Linked DNA regions of Homo sapiens: region 1 is linked to region 2. A link means that fine-mapping ties the variant in region 2 to the expression of a gene that starts in the linked region. Tissue or cell type: whole blood. Region 2 holds a variant in brackets; the other region holds the start of a gene. All regions are shown on one strand. Distances are between the middles of the regions.

Region 1 (2,760 bases), 210 kb before region 2:
GTGGGTACACGCACATACGTCCACATGGGTATATGGACACGAATGTGTGGCCACCGGATCCAGACCCAGGACACAAAAGGGGCCAAGCCCACAGGGGTATGGTGTTGGGCACACATAGACCCCCAGGTGAGGCACACAGACAGGCGGACACATCCACAGCCAGCTGGAAGCAGACCGAGAAATTTCCACAGATGGAAATGGTCAGAGAATTAATGACAATCGCAGTAACAGTAATAAGAGTACCAGAGAAGGCCAGGCGCAGTGGCTCACACCTGTAATCCCAGCACTTTGGGAGGCTGAGGCGGGTGGATCTCCTGAGGTCGGGAGTTTGAGACCAGCCTGACAAACATAGAGAAGCCCCATCTCTACTAAAAATACAAAATTGGCCAGGCGTGGTGGCGCATGCCTGTAATCCCAGCTACTCGGGAGGCTGAGGCAGGAGAATCACTTGAACCCGGGAGGCAGAGGTTGCGGTGAGCAGAGATCATGCCATTGCACTCCAGCCTGGGCAACGAGAGTGAAACTCCGTCTCAAAAATAAAAAAGTACAGAGAAAATGCATGCGTGTGTGCACAGGGGTGTGCATGGCAGTGTTGGGGTGTCAGTTCCGACGGGTGGAGCTGGCATCGTCTGGTACTACACATGCCATAGCATACTTCGTCCCCTATGAAGAGACTGCCCTTATTTTGTAGATGAAGACACTGAGGTTCAGAGAGGTGAATTCACTTGCCCAAGGCTGGGAGCAGCAACCAGTCAAGCCAGCTGCTCTCAGCCTGTGCCCTGTCCTACACACACACACACACACACACACACACACACACACAGACACACAGTGACCCACAATGACACAGGGGAGCCCCCCTCACCTCCACCTGCTCTCAGCCCCCCGGTCCCACTCACAGGCAGGCGGGTGACCATCTCTCCTAGACGCCAGTGCAGCTGCAGGAGGAACCAGCCTTGGACGGCCAGCCCGGCCCCCATCAGCAACAGCAAGAGACCCAGACCCACCCGGGCCACACTGCACGACTGTCTCCGGTGGCTTCGTCCCAGCCTCGTGAATGGGATGTCGGTCTGTCCATCCACCACAAACACTGAGGGCCGTACGACACTCTCCTCCATGCCCAAGGTGTCTGGAGCAGGGCTGACACGCCTGGGTCCTTCAACCTCAGAGGAAACCGAAATTGCTCAACACTCCTGGGCTGTGCACGCTGCGGACAGGCACCCGTGGGCCGCCTTTAGAGCTGGGGTTCAGCCCCACCCCTTCCCCCACTCACCCTCCTCTTCTTCCGGTACCCGCCGCCCCCGGTCTTGGCCCTGTCTCACTCTCACTCATACAGACTCTCACACTTTCCAGAGGCTTCTGAAAATGTGACTCAGGTGGCAAGTGCAGTGGGGAGCCCCCAGCTTTCCCTTCTTGGATGCTTCATTCGCTTGGGGCCACCAAATATCGACTGAGGACTTTCTGCCCATGCCAGGCTCTGCTCTCGGTGTGGGGGATGCAGCAATGAACAACAGCAAGAAGGGTCCCTGCTCCTCTTCTGGTGGAGCCAGAGAGACAAGAAACCTCGTAAACAAGAAAATAATACGTTGTGGGTTTTTTTGTTCGTTTATTTGTTTTGTTTTTGAGATGGAGTCTCGCTCTGTTGCCCAGGCTGGAGTGCAGTGGCGCGATCTCAGCTTACTACAACCTCCACCTCCTGGGTTCAAGCAATTCTCCTGCCTCAGCCTCCCAAGTAGCGGGGATTACAGGCGCGTGCCACCACGCCTGGCTGCTTTTTGTATTTTTAGTAGAGATGGGTTTTCACCATGTCGGTCAGGCTGGTCTCGAACTCCTGACCTCAAGCGATCCACCCACCTCAGCCTCCCAAAGTGCTGGGATTACAAACGTGAGCCGCACCATGCCCGGCCTTCTGTTGTGTTTTGATGTGACAAGTGCAGTGAAAAACACAAGAGTGGAATAAAGGAGTGGATGTGTGCTCTGTGTGTGTGCTTGTCTGCATGCATATATGTGTGCAGTGTGTGCATGTGAATGTGTGTATTCAGTTGTGTGCATGCAAGTGTGTATCATGTACACATGTGCAGGCGCATGCCTGTGTATCATACATGTGCTGGCATGTAAATGTGCGTGCATATGTGGGCAGGTGCATGCATATGTGTATGGTCATCTGTGTGCATGTGCATGTGGTCCATGTACATGCATGCATGTGCACGTGTGTGTATGTGTGAACATGCATCACATGTGCAAGTGGGTGTGCATATATGTGCTGTGTGCAGGTGTGTGCATGTGTGTGTGCCTGTGCATTGGTGCGTGTATGTGTGTGTGCGCACTTGCACGGGTGTGTTCATGTGTGTGGGGAGGTCCATGTATGAGTGTGCATGCATTCAAGCGTGGATTTTTTTTTTTTTCGAGACGGAGTCTCGCTCTGTCGCCCAGGCTGGAGTGCAGTGGTGCGATCTCGGCTCACTGCAAGCTCCGCCTCCCAGGTTCACGCCATTCTCCTGCCTCAGCCTCCTGAGTAGCTGGGACTACAGGCGCCCACCACCGCACCCAGCTAATTTTTTGTATTTTTAGTAGAGACGGGGTTTCACCGTGTTAGCCAGGATGGTCTCAATCTCCTGACCTCGTGATCCGCCTGCCTTGGCCTCCCAAAGTGCTGGGATTACAGGCATAAGCCACCGCACCCAGCCTTTTTCTTTCTTTTTTTTTTTGAGGCAGAGTCTCACTTTGTCACCCAGGCTGGAGTGCAGTGGTGCCATTTTG
Region 2 (2,762 bases):
ACATGCCTGTAATCCCAGCACTTTGGGAGGCTGAGGCAGGAGGATCGTTTGAGCCCAGGAGTTTGAGACCAGCCTGGGCAATAAAGCAAGATCTCATCTCTAAAAGAGAAAAAAAAAAATTAGCAGGGTATGGTAGGGTATGCTTGTGGTCTCAGCTATTTAGGAGGCTGAGGTGGGAGGATTGCTTGAATTCAGGCAGTTGAGGCTGCAGTGAGCTGTGACTGAGCCGTTGCACTCCAGCCTGGGCAACAGAGCAAGTCCCTGTCTCAAAAAAAAGAAAAGAAAAAGAGAGAGAGTTTGAAGTAGAACTTGCTGTGAGGTTTCTTGTGCACAGGTGTTTTTGAGGGAGAAGATCAGGACAGAGCAAGGGAATGAGCTAAGCAAGGAAGTGGTCTTAGCTGGAGTCCAGCCTTAGCCGGATCCCATGGGGAGCCCTGGAGTGTGACTGGTGCCACCAGGTTGGTCTCACCCTGGGGGCATGGGGCTGGCCTTCTGCACCTCTGTGACCATCCGTTATGGCTGTGGGCTGGGTCTGAGGGTTTGCACAGTTGCTCAGCTGAGGAGAAGGGGGAAGCTGTGAGCTATGAGCTATTGTAGGCAGCACTCACTCACAGCAGCCCCAGGATGGGTGCACCAGCCTGGGAAAGGTCAGTGAGCAGAGCGTTGACTGCACCCACAACAGGGACTTCAAGTATTTTATAATCACTGGGGGGCTTTTTGTTGTTGTTTTTTTGAGACAGGGTCTCACTCTGTTGCCCAGGCTGGAGTGTACTGGTGCCATCACGGCTCACTGTGACCTTGACCTCCTGGGCTCAAGCAATCCTCCCGAGTAGCTGGGACTACAGGCATACACCACTAGGCCTGGCTTATTAAAAATTTTCTTTTATAGAGATGGGGTTTCTCCATGTTGCTCAAGCTGGCCTTGAACTCCTGGGCTCAAACAGTCCTCCCACCTTGGCCTCCTGAGTAGCTGGGACCACAGGTGTGCACCAGCCACTATGCCCAACTAATTAAAAAAAAATTTTTTTCTGTAGATTCAGGATCTCAGTATGTTGCCTTGAACTCCTGGGCTCAAGCGATCCTCCTGCCTTGATTTCCCAAAGTGGTGGGATTACAGGCATGAGCCACTGTGTCTAGCTGATCACTAGGGCTTTAGGGGGAGTGGAGATCAATAAAACAAGATGGGGAGACCAGAGTCAGACTACGTAGAGCCTTGAGTGCCATATTAATAAGCCTGAACTTCATCCTGAGGGCAATAGGGAGCCATGGAAGGGTTTAGAGTCTAAGCAGGGCGTGGACAGGTTAGGCAGGGATTCCCCAACTTCCCTGCCCCTTCCCGGCACTCTGTGTGACGGTAAGTGATGTTCCTGCAGCTCCCCAGGCTGATTTCTTCAATCTTGAGAGTCCCTTGTATTCCCCTTTGCTAGGGAAGTCATTAGGGGTTAGATTTTGTAAGCTTCTTGGCCAGAATTGTTGATTTCCTCTTCCACATCTTTCCCCTTCCTGTTCTTACACCCCCACCCGCAACTCTGCAGGGCCGCTGCAGGACAGTCTTTATATAGCTTCGGTCACCTCTGTGGGTTTGAAGGGTGTCTGGAGTCTTGGGT[T/C]TTCAGTGTCTCACTAGGACCCGATACCCTGCCTGTGGTAGGTGGGATAAAGGGCCTCCTCTCCCTCCACGAGGCACCTACAGCCTAATCCCTAAAGCCCAAGGATGTGTTCCCTTCTATGACAAAAGGGACTTTTGCAGATGGGATTCAGTTAAGGGCTATTTTTTTGGGGGGGAGGTGGGGGGAGTGGGGACAGAGTCTTACTCTGCTGCCCAGGCTGGAGTGCAATGGCACGATCTCAGCTCACTGCAACCTCTGCCTAATGTCATTACAAGAATTCTTACGAGAAGGAGACAGGAGGATCAGGGAGAGAGAGAGAGATGGAGAGATAGAGATACACAGAGAGTGAGAGAGAGAGAAAGAATGAGAGAGAACGAGAGAGAGAGAGAGAGAACAAGAGCAATAAGGAGAGTGAACAAGACAGACAGAATGGGCCAGGCGCAGTGGCTCGCGCCTGTAATTCCAGCACTTTGGGAGGCCGAGGCGGGCGGATCACTTGAGGTCAGGAGATTAAGGCCAGTCTAGTCAATATGGTGAAACCCCATCTCTACTAAAAATACAAAAGTTAGCCAGGTATGGTGGCAGATGCCTGTAATCCCAGCTACTCGGGAGGCTGAAGCAGGAGAATCGCTTGAACCCGAGAGACGGAGGTTGCAGTGAGCCGAGATCGTACCACTGCACTCCAGCCTGGGTGACAGACTGAGACTCTGTCTCAAAAAAAAAGGAGAAAAAAAAAAGAGAGAATGAAAGAGCAAGAGGGAGGGAAAAATGAGAGAATAAGCAAGAGAGAGAACTTGAGAGAGAGACAGACAGAGAAAAAGAGAGAGAATGAGAGAGCAAGAGAGAGGGAAAATGAGAGAGAGAGAGAGAGCAAGAACGAGAGATTTAGAGTACGCAAGAGACATTTGAAACTGCTAGCTGCTGGCTTTGCATAGGAAGGAAGGGACCATGAGCCAGGGCATGTGGGTTGCCTCCAGAAGCCAGAAAGGACAAGGAATGGATTCTGCCCTGGAGCCTCGGGAAGGATTGCAGCCCTGCTGGCATCTTGGTTTTAGTCCCATGAGACTCGAGAGGACTCTGACCTCTGGACCCATCATATACTAAATCTGTGTTTTCCCCAAGCTGCCAGGTCCGTGGCAAGCCTCATCCCATCCC

What was found. PIP is the estimated chance that this variant, and not a neighbour inherited with it, causes the effect. A credible set is the group of variants that fine-mapping cannot tell apart.
Region 1: it holds the start of TNFSF14, and the variant in region 2 is the best candidate, but not a certain one, in a credible set for the expression of TNFSF14 in whole blood (TOPMed, PIP 0.53).

What each region holds. Positions count from the first base shown.
Region 1 is chr19:6,668,952-6,671,711 of GRCh38, forward strand. It overlaps TNFSF14 (TNF superfamily member 14), which reads right to left and starts at 1,209. Exons shown (of 4, transcript NM_001376887.1): 1 at 900-1,209. The coding sequence starts at 1,118. RefSeq lists enhancers at 1-68, 969-1,058, 1,439-1,668 and a silencer at 2,239-2,338.
Region 2 is chr19:6,875,492-6,878,253 of GRCh38, forward strand. No RefSeq gene overlaps it. Among named protein-coding and RNA genes, the nearest start is that of ADGRE1, 11 kb to the right of the region's middle. The variant T/C (reference allele first, on the strand shown) is at 1,608.